2 separate regions of the Homo sapiens genome follow, and region 2 is linked to region 1. Evidence: fine-mapped expression QTL. Tissue or cell type: whole blood. Region 1 holds a variant in brackets; the other region holds the start of a gene. All regions are shown on one strand. Distances are between the middles of the regions.

Region 1 (10,724 bases):
TGTTAGAAAACTCAATTTAACCAAATAAGCAGAACCAGAGTGCAGGGCATCAACAGCGTCAGAGACTGGGTGTACTACGTGCAGGAATCTGTCCACAGCTGCAGGTACAGTTACTTTCAACTGAACAGATTAACTTTGGTTGCTCTGCATAGGGATGTGGTCCAGGCACTTACAGGGACACAGAGAAACATGGAGAAGGATCAATGGACAAGTGAATAAACAGCCCAGTGACATCCATTGGGCTTTAAAATGGTTTGCTGCTGAGGAGATATATTGGCAATTGGTGTGATGGGACCTCCTAAGGCCAGAGCTTATTTCTGAACATATATCCCACAGAGCACACATTCCTTGAGATACTCCACACAAAAAAATGGCTAAAGAAACTTGAGAAACAGTCCCTAATTCTCCTCTTGCAGATTCACAGTACACATTAGCTTATAAAAGGAGCAGAGACATCAGTCAAAAAACCTTGAATCTTGTTTAACTCAGCATTTCCCATTTTGGAAACAATTAACTATAACTTACCAAACATTGGAATTGCTATGTCTCGAGCTTTCTGCCTGAGGCTATTTACATAGCCTGTCAAAAGCTGATGGCAAAGAAGTGAAAATTGTAGTCTATATGACATATCTGTTTTTGTCCCTGAGTTAATTTACCCAACCCAATGTTTTGTTTCTTGTTTATGTTAGTTCTGCCTATTCCCACAGCCAGGTTGACTGCTCTTGCCTGGATCTGAAGGTTATATTGAAATGGGGACTCATACCTGGGTCTGTTGGTCTCCAAAGCCTGTATTTTTAACTATGTGATACTCTGCTTAATACTGAGGGCGTTTAAATTCCCCTCAATGGTTGGGTACTTTCATTGTCTCCTATATCAGTCAACTATTCCTATCTGCTAGAAATGAAAAAAGAAAAGAGAGGAAGGGGAGAAGGGAGACAGGGAGAGGGATTAATTTCTTGTAGAAGCATGGGTAAAACTTAATCACAGGGACATTTTTGAGCATTTGTAACTTTATCACAAGTTCTTGCTGTTTTCACAAGTTCCTGGGAGATGTTATGCTTGGAGGTAGGTTAAAAATATTATTTAAAGGATGAAACCTATTCATCTTCCCTGGATAGGGAAAGAATCCCAAAGATGATTATGAAAGAGATAGTCTAGGATTACTCCCTACAAGTTTTCCTGTGGAGCAGCCCCTAAACTGCTCTTCTCAACCTTCATTTGCAAAGCAAAACAGCATTAGTGTAATCAGTCCCCTATCTTTCCCAAATCTGCCTTACCCTAGTAGTTGCAGGGGATATTCAAACAGGAGGCCTGGAGAAAGTGCTTTTGAACAGCAAGCTCCTTTGTTTTCCTCCCTTGCCTCTGACCACTCTGGCTTTTAAATTCTCAAATTTGAATTCTCAAATTAGATTTTGTCTGACCTTTAGCATTGCTTGGCAACTATGAAGAGTCCATTTTCCCTACTGTGGCCACGGTCTGAACCACGCATTCTGATGCTAAGCCACTGCATGTGCCTGACTGACATGACACTGCAGGCTCTTGGCCCCCATTCTTCCCCCGGGAGACAAGTGGCACCTGATGGCATTGCCAACTTCTCACTGGTTAAACTATATTGAATTGTGTCCATTGCCAGCCTCAACTCCCTCCCAGGCAAGGAGGAAGGCCAGGGCTCTGATCAGGGCTGAGGTTTCAGGAGCTGGACTAGTAATGGAGCTGGGGTTGATGAGGAGGTGGGAGGTGGGGTGACTGCTGGGTGGAGCAAAGCAAGCAGCAGCCAAGGTGAGTTTTGAGAAAAGGAGGCCATTTACCACTGGCAAAGAGACTGGAAAGAAAGATGCCTGCTGTGTATGAGGCCAAAGAGCAAGCAGAGAGAGTATTTGAAACAGGGAGGATGGAAAAGAGTCAAGCCTGAAAATCTTCCCATGCTAAGACTGGGTTAGGAGCAGAGGCAGCCCTAGAATTTGTGAACCTGAAGTTCATGCTTTTAAGGAGCCCTCCTTCAGAAACAAAAATGAAATTCCAACTACAAAATATAATATGGGGCTGGGAGCAGTGGCTCATGCCTGTAATCCCAGCAGTTTGGGAGGCCCAGGTGGGTGGATCACTTGAGGTCAGGAATTCGAGACCAACTTGGCCAATATGGCAAAACCCTGTCTCTAGTAAAAATACAAAAATTAACCAGGCGTGGTGGCATGCACCTGTAATCTCAGCTACTCAGGAGGCTGAGGCATGAGAATCGCTTGAACCAGGGATGTAGAGGTTGCAGTGAGCCAAAATTGCGCCACTGCACTCCAGCCTAGGGGACAGAGTGAGACTTTGTCTAAAAAAAAAAAAAAAAGTAGATATGGAAGTGAATATTTATTTAGAATATGAAAAGGAATTAAAACAAATTTGCAGACTTTTAGAAAACTATTATATACCACAGATATCAAAAAATCCCAAAAGGTAAATTAATATTTTATTATGTGGATAACATATACCTGTAATACTGTTTTTTCTGTTTTTTTTGAAACATACACTTTGAATGCCTCTTCATTTGCCAATGATTTTGTAATATCCTGATTTGTGGGAGAGAAGACAGGTAACACAATTCCTCCACTAGGATGATCAATCAACATTGACTTTTAGTATTAATAGTTGGGACGTAAAACTGCAACTGTTTATAGAAGTACTACAGGTTTGTATGCAAATACATAAAAGTCTACTTTGGGTACTTCCCACTGAAAAATATATGGTGCATTTGTTATTGTATATGTTGCATTATTGTGTATATTCCTGACAAGAGAGAATTTCTGTTTTGACTAGGCATTGGTGAAAACTAGATCCTCTGTTTACAATTTTACATATCTGATAACTGGGAGAACTTCCCACAGACTAGCTTCTAGCTCTATATCTTTCAAATTTCAATCTTCATATCCTGCATATTTCTGGTGCTGATGCCATAGGATACATTTATATTGTGACATGACCATCTTTGGGTCATGACCTGAGTGAAGTCAGCACAATGGGCATCAAGAGTATTACTGAAGGCCAGCTCTTCACCATGATGGTTAACAATAATGTAACTATTACCGGAAATAACTTAGGACCACACAAATATATCTCACTAAACCCAAACTAAATATATGCCTAATTTAACTTCCCACTTAGTGAAGTACCCAAGATGCCCATGGCAACTCTAATACCATCTGAGGCTAGTGGAAGTATAACAGAGGGAAAGCTGTAATGAAAAGAGGCATTGGTCTTAACCAGTTGCAGCTCAAATATCTTATGCTTGCAAATTTTGCAAAAATAAATCATGTGAACACTACGGTAGGTCCCTTTCTGGGCATGGGAAGGGAGCAGTGAAAGTGAGAGGTCTTGGACTTTGAGTTTTATGATTATGACAATAAATCATCCTTGCGTTAGGTCAGAGTATTCCAAGCTTCTTCCTATACTAACCAGATAAATGGACACAGATTGTTTCCACCATCGTGATTATTAAATTGTCAAATCAATGATGGTTGAGCCATCTTGGGCACCACACTTCCTCCAGGCATGCAGTGAGGACTGGTCATCTCCGCTGGCCCCTGTGCATGTCTGTTAGGAACAAACACCTCCTGTGTAGTTAGACTTCGCTGACACAGGCTTCTATTTAAGGAGATGACTGTTATTAATAGAAAGAGTGCTAAAACTACTCTAAACAGAAATGGACATGGTTTCAAGTGGACTTTATCAAAATCATCATGGTATACACCCATCTGAAAGTAAAAAGCAAGTTTCACATGAATGATGGGGTCTCTTAAGTGACCACACTGAATTGACCATACAGGCTTTTCTAAGTAAAATGTCTAATCTCAGAAAAGGCAGTACCAGGTGGTCTGATGTTAAAGAGACTTTTGACCATTTCCCACTCTCTTTGCACTGTTAGTCAACAGTCACTGGTTGGTTTTGGGAAATGGTACTGACACTTCATTTCGTTTCTTTTGTTTCCATTGAGGTGGAATTGATGAGCTTGTTTTGCTGTTGATTTTACTGTAACTAGGAAGGTCCTTAAGTGAGGCAGATAAGATGGCAGCAGAAGCTATCAGAGGAGGAGAAAGGAACCTTAGAGATTGTCTTCATTACATAGTGGAGGGAACTAAAACCCCAAGAGGAAAAGTTACACATCAGTTAGAAGAAGCATTACTCAGGGGTAAGCAAGGCAAGTTTCATCTCTGGAATCTAGTCCACTTTGTTTCTGTACTTTCAATCCAAACTAATGTTTCACCAAAGTCCTACTGGAGAAGATGGTTTGGGTAACTATGGAGTAATTCTGGCACCCTCTCCTCAGCCCCAGCTCCCCAATCCCATGCCCCAAAGTGATTGCACCTGCCTTTACACAGGTAAGGCGATTGTCAAAACTTGTATTTGAAAAATAATAATACCAAATGCTTATGTTCATGTGCGTTCCTTAGCCAGTGCTTCCAATGACTGGAACATGTTCAAAATTGCATGAATACTATTTCATAGAAGAGAATAAGATGTGGAAGATAGCTGTATTTTGGTAAATACCAATTAGTAATATGGCATAATTGGAACTTTATAAGATATAAAAAATAAAAAATATTTATAATTTGTAATAATTTACTAAATTTAAAAAGTAGGTATAGTTGTTTAAAGATAAAATTATTTTGACTTTGAATAATGATTAAATAAGTTCCTCTCTGGCTTACTGCTTTCTTATTCACGTGTCTTGTTTGATCAAACAGGGAGCCATAGATACACAGACACTAAGTAAACTTCCATGAACAACCCCAAAAGACAGGTAGACCATCTTGTTACCTAGAAGGCCAATGGTTTCTTGGCAACCAGCATCATGGAGAATGGGCCAGTGACTCTCTGCCCTCACTCTGTGGTGTTTCATGAAGTCATATATACTCTGAGTCAATCCAGGGTGAGTCATATTCCCCTGGGCAGGCAGTTCCCACATTGCAAAAGGAAGGAAGGAAAGGAAGCAAGAAAAATAATAATAACTCGGTGGTTATTGTGTTAAATAAAGTACATTTCAATATGTTGTACCAGGTGGTAAAATTATAGAAGCCAATCTTTTCTGAAAATGCAAGATGCGGTATGTTGGATCAAGTGATTTAAAAAAAATGTAATTGTTTTCAAACTTGTTTATCTTCTGACCTCTTGGAACTGCCTATTAAAAAGAGGAAGCTAATTCCTCTGGCAAACTTTGTGGAAACTTGACACAGAGTCTTAGGGTGGTATTAAAAATGCAACAGGGCATTTTACTCTCAGAGGAGAGCGGGTGTGGTGGGGGACTACGGCCCACTCACTGCTCCAGGTCAGCAAGCTAAGAATGATTTATTTATGGCAAGCATGCTAGATGCCAGCCGCTTCTGGAGGAGCTGAGTGCTCAAGAATGAAGGCCTCAAACACAGGAGATGAATCTCCCATAACCTCTGATGATTTATGAGAGAGTTATTAATTTGATTCTCATTGTCAGGTGATGGATCAAGATACATTTTGAATTTGAGCTATTGTTCTTTCACTTTCTTTGTCTTCAGTAGGATATAGTTTAGATTGTAACTTTCATTAATTGTGTTATAATCCTACAAGTAGCTGAATATGCATTCTTTTTCATCTTCAGTCACTCTATGGCCCCCAAATCATATAAGAAAAATAGATGACTGTTTAGTTAGAGAAGTAAGTTCCCAGAAGCATTTTCATCCAGGCTCACCCCAAGAAACCTACATTCCTGCCACTGTCAAGCGGGTCTGCTCTCCAGATGTGAAGCAAAAGATCACCAAATCTCCATTTCCATTTTACCTTTGCCCTGAAGGTTTGTAACAATACTGAAAGCAAATAACTCAAATCCACAGTGCAAAATTTCCAAATTTATGTAAATTTCTGGACAGGCCTGGTCTTAAACCAAGTGATGATACAGGTAAAATCTCTTTCCAAAGCCACCATTTCCCTCCACTACTTCTTGTTTTCCCCTTCCTTGTTCTCCCCTCTTTATGTACCCTCTTTGGGTACTACTCTCGGAAAAGAGCCTGTCAAGTGCAGTCATTCCAGGGAATAAATATGATCTGAGGTGGTTATTTTTATCAAGGTATTTTCCTTTTTTATTAGTCAAAAAGCCTCAACTGGAGCAAGGAACCCTTTGTAAAACTTCAAGCCACAACAGATGGCATCTTC[C/T]AAGGAAAGAACCTTTGAAGCATTCACAGGTGACTACCACAGAGACCCTCATGGGTGACTACTGTGCTAATGGCTGCTTTTGAATTTGGGCAGCTCCGCAGGTAGATACCAGGCACTATTTTGCTCCCAGCATTGTAGTTGTTTCTTTTCTCCCACAAGCATATGGAAGCAGGCAATGCATCTTATCCAACTTCGCCTACCCCACAACACACAGCAGAGGACATTGCACACAGCAGGCTGACTGGCATCCGATGAATCTGTGAACTGAAGAGTGGGCTGTCCCTCCTTTTAAGAATGCAATGATAAACTCTGCTGCCCTCTGCAAGTTAGATACAGAGAGCTCCTTGCCATACCTCAGTGTAGAGCACCACCTCCCTCCTCATTTTTCACATTGGTGAATGGAGACATAGCACAGTGCATGAGCTGCCCTCAGGAAGTAAATGAAGCACAAGTGAAGGGACATTCCTTTCTTCCCATCTCCACAGTTCAGATTTTGTGTGTGTGTGTTGCCTGAACTGTACTCTGAAGTGGCTCCTAAACTTAGCTTCTTCTAACTGCTACAATTACCCTCTGACTTTGAAACAACTTTCTCCACCTCAATATAAAAAGTGAACCTAGTACATTAGGAGTTTGCCTTATGTGATTTGGCAGCACAAAAGTTCCAAAATAAGTTGACCTGTTATACTTCCACCACCTCCAGCCTTTCTCTATCTCACCACCAGCCCTATCATTTTTCCTGTACTTTGCAGGTATTTGAGAACATGGTGCATAAGCAAATGAAGACATTAACCTGGTTTCACAATCTAGTTCCCTTCTGTGTAATTATAGGCCAGCTTCTTAAAACTTCTAATCCTCACTTTTCTCATCTATAAAATAAGAAAATACAATACATGCTTTATAAGGCTATAGCAAAGAGTAGATGAACCAATGTATACAAAGTACCTAGCACAGTACATGGTACACAGAGGGTGCTCAATAACTGTACATCATTATCAGCACCGTTAATAGTCTCATCATCACTGTTGCATCTAGTAACTGCAACCAACTCTGTTGGTGCTAATGACGCAAAGTCATTAGGAGTGATTTATGGGTGGGCTATGTAGAATCAGAAGGTAAAAATCCCTGCAAATTACACACTTCTGAAATATATCTCTGTTTTTCAGTCAGCAACCTTGCTCCTTGGAAACAAAATCACATAAGCAAGAGAGAACGTGCACCCAGAAGCATGTGCCTTGGCCCTCCCACTTGGTGGACATTGTGTTTTACCTGTTGAGGGAGGCATGTAGTAGAGCACAGAAGGTCTGAGTGTCTGAGGTCTGGATTCTAGCTTTGTCTCTATTGCCAATGGTTAGCAGGGTGACCTTGACTAAGTGCCCCATCTCTCTGAGGTTCTGCATCCTCACCTGGCAAACAGGAACCGAGACTCAATACTCCATGTCATCTTGGGCTCGGGTACATGTAGTCCATGTTTTGTTTAAACACATAGTCTGTGTTTTGTTGCTGATGTATCTACTTCCCTCCTTTTTTGTTCTTTTCATTGTCTCATTGAGAGGGCAAGGCAAGGATGAAAACAAACAGGAAAACAGCACCCTCTAGGGTTTTTCAGAGGCATGACTGTACTGATGATGTGTGACGTGCTGGAGTATGAAGGACATCTGGCTAAACACCCCGAGTGGCCTCAGTGCCTCCCAAGGCCTGCCTGCCCCACCTCCTAGGTGGGCCATTCAGTCTTGTTTCTATCTTGAAGGGAATTTAAATAAATTTATTTTGAAAAAAGAAAAAACTACCCAAAACAAAAACAAAAAAAACCTACAGAACTTGGGGAAATTATTGAAAAAAAAATTAATTTCAACTTCATAAGCCATTTTCTATTTCAAAGATAAGTTTGTTATTGAATGCAGAAATACAACCTTTTTAATGCTTTCATTGAAATAGTTAAGAAACTGTTCAGAATATTTAAGCAAGGCAAACGAGCATTTTATTAATTCAATATTTTAATTTTTAAAAAGAGTGATTTTGAAAGCCCATTTTAGTTTGGTTTTGGATTTATTATTCTCCTTCCTGACATGAGACAAAAATCAATAAAAGAGAACATTATTCTCTCCTAGAAAACAGAGTCACAGCAAGTCAAAAATCACCTGGTCTAATATTCCCATTATATAGATAATGAAACTGGTAGTCCAGTGCCTTTGTTTCTAATTGAGAGCTTCTAGTGCTTTTTGGTGGAGTAGACATAATAGTGATGGCAGTGACAAGACTCAATACAAAAAATTATAAACATTAACTTTATTATTAACAAATAATAATAAACATTAACTCTGTGTCAGGCACTCTGCCATATCTTACCTGGAGCCCCTCATTTAATCTTTGCAACCACCCAACAAGTTAGTTGCTATTGTTACTCCCATTTTATAGTTGATGAAATGTAAGCATAGAGAAGTTAGGTAACTGTTCTAAAATTCAAAACTTATCAATACTCGGGGCTTTAGGTATACAACCACAAACCTAACTCACATTCAAATGAGCAGACATGTAATTAAATTGATACCACTGGGCTTTTTATGACCTCTAATTTTTTGGTTTTGAAACAACAACCAAAAAAATCCCTGTTTTCTTTTGAAACTTCTTCCTAAGCATTGTGAGGATAAAGTGAGGAACGAAGAACTGGGATGAGCAATAAAAGGTAGGCTGTAAACAGACTCTAAGGAAAGGAGTGGGGAGGTGGCCTGTCTCAATATTAGTTAGTTAGGAGCCAGTTATTTGGACTGAGGTATAGTTTGCAATTCAACCACGACCCTGCATGAGTTAATGGGACCATTAATTATTTACAAAAGCATAATGATAGTAATGGTGTTGGTTTTTCTTGCATGCAATGCAAGGTATAGCAGTTAAACTTATTTTGGAAATATAAAGAAAAAGCTTAATTAATATGAAACCTTTATTAAACTCTATGCACCTGCAATTATATTTTCTTCTGTTATTTGGTAAAAGCACACAAATGCACACTCTCTGAACACATAGCTTTGTGTATTCTAACATAGTTTTTCATATGCATATTTCCTCATATTTCACTTTCAATAGCTACATAATATTATTCCACCATCTTGATGTATCACAATTTTCTTAGTCATTTCCCTATTGCTGAGGCTTTTGTATTGTTCCCAGTTATAAATAACACTGCTATACTATTTACAGACCATTTTTAATTTGGGGGATTTTTTTATGTATGTTCCCAAGAGCTTAACTTCTGTGTCAAAGTGTACAACATATCATATCTTTTGGTAGATTGCTTTCTAGAAAGACTAACAAATTGCAAGACCAATAACATTGCATTTGTAGTATTCCATTTTTCTGATTTATCCACTACAACTGCCACAACTGCTACAACTGCTATTTATAATTTTAGCTTTTTTTAAAAAAACCACAATACTATCACCATTGCCCCCTGCACCACAGCCACTACTATCACCATCTCCTTCATCAACACAAGAAACACCAACACCATTACTATTATCAGCTACCGTCGACATCAACATCACTACCAACAACATCGTCATCCACCACCACCATCATCAACTTCACGAACACCACCACCACCCCACCATCAGCATCATTATCACCTTTATCAATGCAACCTCTACCACATCACCATCATCATTCACCACCATCATCATCATCAAGCCCACTACCAACAATGCCAGCGCCATTACTTTCACCACCACCACTATTACTGTGTTCCGCTACCATTACCACCACCTGTACTACTATCTGTACCACCACCAAGCCTCATCCACCATCATTCCCATCACCTCCACCAATGCCATCACCATGATCAGCTATTATCACCATTATTAACACTATGAGCAACAAATCAAATACTACCAATCGCGTTGTCTTCAACAACACCACCAACAAACAACAGTGTCATCACATGCTACCGTCACCATCATTTTCACCACCACCATTACCAGCACTAGTACCATCATCATTATCTTCCACCACCACTATTGCTGCCTACCATTAACGGAAACATTCAATATGTGCCAGATACTGTACTGAATGGTTTATTTACATTAATCATTTTATCCTCACACTAATCCTTTAAGTATAATAGCTGTATGCTACTGATTAGAAAATGGATGCTGAGAGGTTGGGACCCTGAATCAAAGACACAGCTAAAAAGTGGCAAGGCAGGATCCATATCTACATCTATCTGATTCCAAAGCTCATTGTCTGAATTGCCAGGGTTTACAGTTACTTAACTGATATGCTGTGGTGTTTTAAAGGTTTTTTGTTTACATCTCTTTAGTTGCTATTGAGACTGAACATTTTTCCATGTGCTGATTTATTGTCTGCATTTCCTTATGTGTATGCCCTCCATTTATTTCCTATGATCTCATTTTGAAGAAAAGCTGAATACTGACCTTAATTAGATGAATTCTCTGTTCATTTCTTAAGAGTAGAGCTTCCTTTTTAACATTTATAACTTACAATTTTTTAACTTCCTTACAATCCCTTTTGTTTTTTATTCCAACATATCTGTTTTATTTATAATT
Region 2 (10,724 bases), 29 kb after region 1:
TTAATATGTTTAATAAATATAGGACTATTCAGGTTATCTACTTCTCATTGAGTGAATTTTGTTAGTCTGTGTCTTTTATCCATTTTATCTAAATGGTCTAATTTATGTTCAGAGAGTTGTTTGTAGTACTCCCTTATCTTTTTGTATCTGTGAAGTTCATAGTTGATATCCCATCTTTTGTATCTAACATTGATAATATATCTTCTCTCTCTAGTTTTTTGGTAAATCTAGTGAGAAATTTATCAACTTTATTGATCTTTGATAAAAACCAGCCTCTAGTATTATTGATTTTCTCTATTGTTTTATTTTTTCTTCGATTTCATTAATTTCTGTTTTTATATTTATTATTTTATTATTTTTGCTTGCTTTGGTTTTAGCTGGCTGTTCTTTTTTCTAGTTCCATAAAATGGAAGCCTAGATTATAAATTTCAGAACTTTATTATTTTCCAAAATAAGTGTTTTATGTATAAATTTCTACTAAGCGTTGCTTTAGCTGCATCTCACAAATTTTGATATGTTGTATGTTCATTTGAATTCAGTTCAAAATATTTTTTAATAATCCTTGAGGCTTCCTTGTTGATCAATGAATTTCTTAAAGTGTGTTGCTTAATTTCCAAATAACTGGAAGTGTTTTGGATATCTTTCTGGATATTAATTTAATTGATTCCATTATGGTCAGAGAACATACTTTGTATAATTTCATTATTTTAACGTAATGAAGTTTGTTCTGTGACCCAGAATGTGATCTCTTTTGGTAAATGTTCCATATATATCTGACAATAGTGTATATTATGTTGTTGTTTGGGTGGGATATTCCACAAATGTTCATAAGGTCAAGGTTATTGATAGTGTTGTTTAGGTCTTCTATATTCTATATTCTTATGGATTTTTTGTCTACTTGTGCTATAAATTACCAAAAGAGGAGAACTGAAGTCTCTAACTATAATTCTGTATTTCTCTTTCTCCTTTCAGTTCCATCAGCTATTGTTTCATCAATATTGAAGCTCTGTTATTAAGTATATATGCATTTAAGGTTGTTCTATCTTCTTGGTGAGCTGGCTCTGTTATTATTATTATTATTATGTAATGTCTCTATTCCTGATAATTTCCTTTTTCTGAAGTCTATTTTGTCTAATAGACTTACATTAATATATGTTTATATATTATTAATAATTATATTAATTTAGAGGTTAGCTTTCTTTTTTTTTTTTTTTTTTTTGAGACGGAGTCTCGCTCTGTCGCCCAGGCCGGACTGCGGACTGCAGTGGCGCAATCTCGGCTCACTGCAAGCTCCGCTTCCCGGGTTCACGCCATTCTCCTGCCTCAGCCTCCCCAGTAGCTGGGACTACAGGCGCCCGCCACCGCGCCCGGCTAATTTTTTGTATTTTTAGTAGAGACGGGGTTTCACCTTGTTAGCCAGGATGGTCTCGATCTCCTGACCTCATGATCCATCCGCCTCGGCCTCCCAAAGTGCTGGGATTACAGGCGTGAGCCACCGCGCCCGGCCCAGCTTTCTTTTGATTAGTGTTTGCATGGCAGGGGCTTTTCCATCCTCTTACTTTTAATTTATCAATAACATTGTGTTTGAAGTGAATTCTGTAACAGCATATAGTTGGGTCTTCTTGTTGCTTTTTTATGCAATCCAACAATCTTCAGCTTTTAATTTATGTGCTTAGACCATTTATATTTAGCTTAAGTATTAATATGGTTATATTTAGGTGTACCATTTTATTATCAGTTTTCTATTCTCTTCCTCTTTTCTGCCTTTTAGATTATTTGAATATTTCTTGTCATTCCATTTTAGCTTATCTGTTGGCTTTTTTTTTTTTACTATACTTTTGTTTTATAACTCAAATAGCTGTTTCTTTAGGGATTACAATACACATACCTAGTTTTTCTCAGGCTACTTAGAGTTTACTATATCAAGTAAAGTATATAAACCTTACAACTGTATAAATTCCTTGCCCTTTACCCTTTATGCTGCAGTGGTCATATTATTGAATCTAAATATATTAAAAATGCTATCAGATATGTTATAGTTTTCACTTTCAACAGTCATACAAAAATATGAATGTCACACAGATTTGCATGTCACCCTTTCATTGGAGCCATGCCAATCTTCTCTGTATGGTTTCCATTTTAGAATATGTGCTGCCAAAGTGAGCACTAAATGTGTTTTTAAAGTACTTTCCTGGTAAAAATTTATTCAAAACTTGCACCACATTTGTGAAACTATGGGCTGGAATTAGACATATAGTGTTTTTCTCCAGACAAAGCTAGAATTGACTCTAACCAATTATTCTTTAACATTAAAGGGTACAAAGTAAAGTCCTTTTATCTTGAGCTAAGGCATAATATGAAATTGAAAATGGAAAATATGCACAGAAATAGTTTATGACCAAAGAAGAATTATTTTTTTTGCAGCATGAAGCTTTATAATATCAAAACTATAAGTTATCTGCAGGGATGTCCAAATGGGAGATATTTCCTATAAAATGTTATTGAAAGAGATCTGTCCAAATTTACAATAGCAGTAGATATTTGGAGAAGATAAAATGAAAGTTAACTCTGATAGGTTTGGGATTAAGGAAAGAGAAGTCATACCACACATTGTTTAGATCATAGCCAAGGAAATGATCGAAAATACGTGTAACACATTTTTCATTAAAACAAAAAACAAAAAACCAAAACCCTCGAAGACATTTTATGCATATAATTTTATTTGCTACTGCCACATTGCCATTAAGAATATTGCCTACACTTCAGTGCAGGGATGTTCTGAGTCTGTGCATCATGCAGCGAAGGCACCAGTCTCCCTCTGTAACCTTGGTCCTTCCCTAAAGTATGTAGTCATTGGTGCAGAATGTACAGCTGTGAAGGTGACTGTTTCTCTAAAGGCTTTGGTGATGTAAGCCTGAAGCCAAGCAGGAGGAAAGCAATTAAACATCACCTTGATTAAGTTATAATGTACCAAGAGAGTTGCACGTTGGGCTTGGTGACTGCTTTCTTCAGGAAGGAGGAATTTGCACTGAGAGTCTGTGGGGACACAGCCTGCCATAAAGGGTAGTGAGGACATCTTTCCCTTTTCTTTGCCTATCAGATGCCTGACCTTTCAGGAAGGTTCAGCTAAAGTGCCTTTTGCTCCATGAAGCCTTTTCCTCTCCTCACCCCAACCATGGTAAATAGTATCTTTACGTGACAGCTTGTATAGCTCCTTCATCTTCCCAATTCATGTGGCAGCCTTAGTTTTCATTTCATGTAACTATTATTCTGAAAGGGATTTTGATCTCTGTTAAGACCGTTAAAACCATGCCTTTGTTTCCTCAAAGTGTGCACTTCCATAGTGTGCACTAAGAAAAGCAGTTTGTAGAGCAGTTGAGAGGACAGGCTCAAGTCTGTCTGGGTTTAAATCCTGACTTCACCATTTCCTAGCTGAATGACTAGGGATAAGTTACTTAAATACTTCATGTCTCAGTTTCCCCACTTGTAAAATTGGGATCATTATACTATTTGTAAATATTATACAAGTTCACACATGTAAAGTGCTCAACATTTTTGCCTAGCACATAATAAGTATTATTACTTATTTTTTTATTAAGCGATAAATTTTTTAATAAAGCTATTAAACAAATACATGTTTTTAGTAAGGAAGGACATAGCACAAACAGGATTAATTAAAGAGAAGGCAAAGAAGACAAAGAGAATTCCACCAGATTCTGGTGCAAAACATTCAATAATTATTTTTTAAAGAACTGAAGGGTGGGAATGTCTGTTGGTGCAACCACTTTAGAAAACCTATGGCAGTGTTTACACAAGGAGAGCATTCTTATACACTACAACTCAGCAAGTCCACTCCTAAGTATACATCCAAGAGAAAAGTGTCTGTGAATCCAACCAAAAGATGTTTGATAGAGAGAATGTTCGTGACAGAGTAGTCATGATAGTCACCTGCACAAATGTCCATTGACAGAAGAATGAATAAGTAAGTGTGTCGGTGAAAATGGATGATACACAACTACACATAGCACAATGGATGAATCTCACAAACATAGTAATGAGCGAAAGAAGCCAGACACCAACATTCCAGGCAAAAAGATCCTATGCTGCTACAAGCCAGAATAATGGTTACCCTGGGACAGTGGAGACGGGAGAAAAGATGTGGAGAGGAGAGAGCAGGAGGAGCTTCTAGGGCTGTGGCTAACATTTTATTCTTCATCTGGCGCTCGTTACATGGGTGGGTTGGATTGTGAAAATTCATTGAGGCATACACCTAAGATATGTGCATCTTTTCTGTGTTTGCATCCTACTTCACTAAAACAACCAGAAGAGAACGGGAATGAAGTAAGATCAGAAAATAAAGGAAGAAATAGAAAGAAAATGAAAGAAGGGAGAAGAAAAATAAACAAACCCAGAAGGCTGAAAGGCATGGAAGCCGCACCTGACCGGGTTGACTCACCCCTCTGCCCCAGGAGCCACCCCTGCCCTGCCCTGCCCGTCCCCAGCACCCTACTCTCCTTTTGCTTAGCCCAAGGATGGCAAATGCCCCTTTTGGTGGGGGTTCTGAGCATCACTAAGACAGGAAGGGCTTTCCAAGTGGGTAAGGCTGGTAGTGGAGTAACTCGGAGGAGCTGACGCTTTATTAAAGAAACAGAAGACTTGAGAGCCATCTCCTCTCTTCCTTCCCCTTCCCCTTTCCCCTTCCTCTTCCCCTTCCCCTTTCCCCTTCCTCTTCCCCTTCCCCTTTCCCCTTCCTCTTCCCCTTCCCCTTTCCCCTTCCTCTTCCCCTTCCCCTTTCCCCTTCCTCTTCCCCTTCCCCTTCTCCTCGACTCTTTCTGCCTTCGCCTCATTATCCGCCCCCAGGACATCCTCTTGGCCTTGGTGGCTTTGCCAGGACCAGCTCTGTCTCCGCCTCCTGCCCTGCGGGGTCTTGGGGCGGGGGGCCGTGGCCCGGCCCAGGCCCGAGCTGCCGGGGTGTCCCCGCCGCGTCCCCGCCCGGCTGACCCCGCCCTGCAGCCGCCGGCTATTTTGGGCGCGTTGGCGGCGGCGGGATCGCTGACAGTCGCGGATCCTGTGACACCTCCGGGCAGCCCGGCACTTGTTGCTCCCACGACCTGTTGTCATTCCCTTAACCCGGCTTTCCCCGTGGCCCCCCGCCTCCTCCCGGCTTCGCTCCTTTTCATGTGAGCATCTGGGACACTGATCTCTCAGACCCCGCTGCTCGGGCTGGAGAATAGATGGTTTTGTGAAAAATTAAACACCGCCCTGAAGAGGAGCCCCGCTGGGCAGCGGCAGGAGCGCAGAGTGCTGGCCCAGGTGCTGCAGAGGTGGCGCCTCCCCGGCCCGGGACGGTAGCCCCGGGCGCCAACGGCATGACAGACTCGGCGACAGCTAACGGGGACGACAGGGACCCCGAGATCGAGCTCTTTGTGAAGGTAGGTCGGGGTCCAGTCTCCCGCCGCACCTGCCGCGCCTCCCGCCGGGCTCACCCACCAGGGCTCGGGGTGCGCTGGACTCCGGACCCTCCCAGGAGGGCGGCGCGGAGCCCTGTGCTCCCCCGTGGCCTTTCCGCAGGCCAGCGCCCCGCTGCGAGGCTCCTGGGCGGAATGGAGGAAGGCAGGTTCCGGCAGGTGGCCGTCTTCTCGGAGAGTTGATCCGCAGTTTGTCCACCCCCGTCCCCGCCTCCGCTGTCACCGCTGCGAGTCCGAGTCCAGAGCCCAGCCCGGACGCGATTCAGGCTGGTCCTGAAAGACGTCTCCAGGTGTCGGGATGCGGCAGAAACCTGGCTGGACCCGTGAACCTTTCCTTTAAAACGGGAGGAGGGGGAGGAATGGGAGAGAAACGTTATTGACACAATGATCTTTGGCAAAGCGAAAATGACATTTCTTAAAATTCTCTTTCTCTCTTTCGCTCAGAGATCCTAAAATAAAAGCCAAGGAGACAAAAGTGTTTTCTTGCTTGGTGACTTGCAAAGCAGAAAACAAGCACTCCATTCTCCGACGTTATTATTTTTGTCATAATCATGATTTTTCAAGGCAGTATCAAGGAAATGTTAGGCGTTTGGTAGTAGGGAGAGCCTCCCGTTCAACCTGATGCAGACAGGGATGAAGGAGCACAGTGCAAATTAAATGAAGTCACCTTGCTCCTTGGACAGAAACTGCCTAATGTCAGAGCTGCTGTACTTTATTTGCAACCTGTAGGAGGAAGGATGGAGGCGAGGCTGCGGCGGCGTTTCCCGGTCCGCCGGTGTAAGGAGAAAGAAACATTTGATCAGCCCTTGGTGCCGACGCTGCAGAAGTAGGGAAACCTGAGGCTGCGGGAGAGTAGCCTCCAGGGCTGAGCAGAAACAGTCGCCAGGACTTGGGGGAGGGGAAGTCGGGGACTGCCTGGGCGCCAAGACCTTTCACAAAGGGGGAAAACTCTCTCAGTGCAAAGTTTCCCTAGAAATATGCAGATCGCTGAGAAGGGAAGAGTCACTGGTGCCTGTCAGGGGCCTCCTGGCAGAATTTAAAAGGCATAAATATTCCCTGGAATTGGGAAAATGTTATTTTGCCCAAAAGATCCTTCTCTACAAGCTAATTAAATAGATGTTTGCAAAAAGTATGAGATCTACATAAACCTTGATAACAATCTGTGGTCTTTGGTACTTTCTGACTCTTAAAATGTGACTTACTTTACACTTGGTACGTGATCTGTCTCCGTTGTCCCAGCCTACCACAAAGGTTTGTTAAATTTCTTCTGCTGGGTTTTACATTCTTTGTGTTTATTTTTCAAGCTTACACCTGACATTTAGTGACACTTGCTTTCTTCAGCCTGTTCTCTTCCCACTGTGGCCCCTGTGTGCTCCTTTGGTTTCTGGGACTCCCCCCACCCCCACCCCAGGCTGGATTTCCAGGTCCTTTGGCAGACCCAGGTAATAAAGGAGGTCATTTCTCGTCTGATGCTGGGTAGTGTTGGACCTTAGGGCAGCAAGGGGGTGTTCTGAACCCCAGCATCCAGGCCTGGGCCCTAGGGGTGAATAGGGAGAGCTTTAACAAAGCGATGAGTCTTGCTGCTCTCCTTGAAGAAAGCGATTCTAGGACTTACTCAGATTCCTTGAGAGTGGTAGTTTCAAGGTGTCAAGTTTCTGAAAGATATTTGAAACACAAATAGGTTCTTTAGAACCAAAGGAGCCCTTTGCCCCACTCCTAGGTGTGGAGACCGATTCTACCTGCACCTTTGGAATTTTCTTGTTGGCAGTGTTGGAGAGTCTCTCCATTTATATAAAAACCTTACTGCACAATTTGCAGCGTTCCCCAAATAATTCTAAAATGACTGTGTTGTCATTTGTTTTTTCCCTAAAGGAAATCAATGAGAGCCAGGCAGGCCTTCATGGCTAGCTCAAAAACCAGATTGATGGGGAGATCAAAACATCAGGTATGAAAGTTGTTTTGACTCCTCCCTCAACCCCATCTTTTTGAGCTTCAGGTTAGCAGTTCTCATTTACAAGTAAATGGGACAAGTAAAGGCTAGAAATATTGTGAAATAAAGATGCTGCCCAGGCCTTACTTGAACTGTGTCATTTGAGGGAAGCAATATCCTTGTTGACAGAATCACACTTTTCCAAAGTTTGGAGTTTCTCTGAGGTACATGATTCCCCATAAAAAGAAAGGCCTTCTTGTTGATGGTGTCAGGTAACTGAAGCTCTTTCTGCAGGGCAGGGTGGGTTGGTTTCTATGAAGACTTCCAAGAAGGATGGGTCCCACCCAGTTATAGTCATGACTTGGTCATTTTCAACACCCCCTTGGAAGGACCTCCCAACCTCTTGTTTCCACTGGGTGTACCACTCTAAATCACAGTCACCTAATGAGTTTCACAATGACATGTAATTGTAATTGTCTCCCACGTCAATTGATAGTCATTATCTGTTACTACTACTGCTGATAATGATAATGATAAGAAGAAGGAAAGATTGCAGCATATTAGGACATAATAAGTATGTTCAAATACCTTATCTCATTTGATCATCAGCAACTTTATAAGGCTTGATTCACTTATGTGAAAGATAAAGAAAACAAATAAACTGGATTCACAGGTACCTTATGAGACTCGCTGTCAGAGCACTTGATGAGCTGCAGTTTGCTCTTCTTGTAACAGCCCAGGGAACTAAGAATGATAATTCCTCCTGTTCTGTTGAACAATACATGTGCTCACAGAAAGTAGGTAAAATGCCCAAAGGTAGATGGCAGATAGCATTCAGATCCAGTCCTCAAATCTAGCAGTTTAGACTTTGAATTTCTTGCTCTTTTCCAAATACCTATATGTCAGGCCTGATACCTTATTTTGCCAAGTTAGGCTTTCAAGTGCCATCATGGTGACATTTATTTATGTTATTAATCCATTCTAATGTGTTCATAGAATGCTTCCAAGGAGACTAACCCATTTCTGCTATGTACTCCGAGTCTTTCCCTTTCGGGGAACATTCTGACAGTGACTTTTAAGAGATTATTTCCCCACATTTTTAGTTTCTACAATAAGAAATGTTAGATCATGTCAACTCTGATTCTAATGTCCCATAATACCTGTGGATGGCGCAGGGATTTGGAGATGCAGTACCTGAGTTCAAGTCTTGCCTCTGCCTCTAATTAGCTAAATGATCCTGAACAAATTATTTAACTTTCAGGAGCCTCACTGGCCCTCTTAAAACAAGAGCATGGTTATAAATAAGGAGACCATATAATTTATTGTCCAAATCTAGACACTTTTGAGAGTGAAAGGGAATGATATCAATAATTAGGCTGGAACCACAGGTATAACCCAGGATAGTTTGGGAGCAAATAAGGATGTGTGGTCATTCTGGTTATGAAAATACTGTCATTGTAGATTTGCTGTGAGGATTCCATGGGAGAACATAGGTGAAAACACTTTGTAAATTGAAAATTGCTGTAAACACACTGACTTGAATATTATGAGTCCCATGGCAGACTGAACCTTTCTGGACCTGCACGTCCCTGATTTGCCTTGGGGAACAAAGGCCTGGCTCCTTCCTCACTTGCAGGGATATTTTGAGAGTAAATGAGATAATATGTAGCTTGGACTTTGATCCTAAGAGGAGGACAACAGGCTAGAGGTAATGGCAGTGAGTGTGGTTTATTGAAAGAAATAGAGCAAGGAAGTAAAAGCAAAACAGAAAGCAATTTGAAAAGACAAACACAGGATGTGCTGTGTAGGTTAGATCAAGGCATTCCACCCATTTGCATTGCTTCCTCCACTCCCAGTCTCACCCCTGGACCCCAGAAGTGACTAATGATACAGACAAGCTCGCCGCAAGTGTCTCTTCAGCCAGGAACTGAGGTTTCAACAGAAACCAGTGGTTCTCAGCCTTCACTACCTATTCAATCCATTGAGAGAGATTTTAAAACTTCTGATGGCAGTTTGCTCCCCAAGCCGATTACATCAGTGTGTCTGTGGGTGGGACCCTGAAACAATATTTTCATATCCACTCTCAGGTGGCTCCAGCGTGCAGCCCTGGTGGAGAGCCACTGAGTCATAATCAGAGGCAGGTCCAATAGCAGGCAGCTTCTGCCACCGCTGACATAGGTGGCCTTGCTAATGCTGATTAAATGTCCAGAACTTCTAACAGCCTCAGGGCATCACGGTCAGAAGTGTTGTTGATAGAAAGCTTGCATCCAATCACTGCCCAGTTAACAGATGCTGACGAACTATTAAGCCCTATCCACAGGACTCCAGAACAATCGTGTATAGGGTTGGTCTAGTCAAAGAATCATCAATTCAGCATGGGGGAAGTAAAACAGAGTTCTGCTAATTGTCTGATGGAAACGACTAGTCTTTCATTTATTGAGTGGCCCAAAAGTTTCTGAGTGGTGCAGGGTGCAATACAAGTTGTGGTGACTCGTGGTGTGGTCATCTGACTTCCAGAACAGATAGGATCAGATCTTGTGGTGTCGCCTCTATGTCCCTGAGCTACTGTGACTGCCTGGTCACCTTGGGCCGCTTGCCTAAGCATGAGCTCACTAGGTTTTTAAAGTTCCCTTCATCATATTAAGCTACTGTGTTTTTCTTTCCCACTATCTTCAGGTTTTGATCTGTAGTCAATAACGCAATACACAAATTTGCCTGCCCTGCTATGGCAGTGAGTGCTTCTTCTCCTGGTAACACATCCCTGGAGAGCTAGCGTCAAGAGTTGTATGATGCATATTTGAAGTGCCATGGCAGGGTGGTGGGAATGAGGACTGGGTCTGCAGAAGCTGACGTCCACTGCCAGTGTTGAGAGCTCCTGCATCCCTGATGACTTGTGTTGTCTCTTTGGGCATTTATTGGCCCCCTCCATGCAAGACAAAGCGTCTGTCAATTTAGACAGTCAGTTAGGTCAAAAACTTCTCATTCTTGGTTCCCTTTGAGTTGTCAGCTGCTGGCCCCATGTTAGTGGTGGCAAGAGATGTGGTGGAAGAGTGAAACTTTGGTGTCAGGCTCGGGTTCACCAGTGTGTTGGCCAGGATGGGCTGCTTGACCTCTCTGGACCACAGATTTTTTTTTTGTTTTAACCAGTGCAGTGCTAATAGCAGCAGCACATCTTTCATGGAGTTGGTGTCAGCATTTCAAGCTGAGTATGGATCTGGCCTATTAGTAAGTCTTTCTCTGTAGGCTCCATGTAGCCCAATAAGTAAAAGTAAAGCCCTTGGGCTTCCCTCCCTTGATGTGTACAAGAAGTCAGAGGCTCAGTCCTA

The links. PIP is the estimated chance that this variant, and not a neighbour inherited with it, causes the effect.
Region 2: it holds the start of CLIC5, and the variant in region 1 is fine-mapped to the expression of CLIC5 in whole blood (INTERVAL, PIP 0.93).

The regions. Positions count from the first base shown.
Region 1 is chr6:46,039,620-46,050,343 of GRCh38, reverse strand. It overlaps a transcript of CLIC5 not described here. Among named protein-coding and RNA genes, the nearest start is that of CLIC5, 29 kb to the right of the region's middle. The variant C/T (reference allele first, on the strand shown) is at 6,169.
Region 2 is chr6:46,010,188-46,020,911 of GRCh38, reverse strand. CLIC5 (chloride intracellular channel 5) reads left to right here and starts at 5,052. Exons shown (of 6, transcript NM_016929.5): 1 at 5,052-5,432. The coding sequence starts at 5,370. It also overlaps the pseudogene RNU6-754P. RefSeq lists enhancers at 4,250-5,094, 5,095-5,939, 9,368-9,417 and a silencer at 5,352-5,401.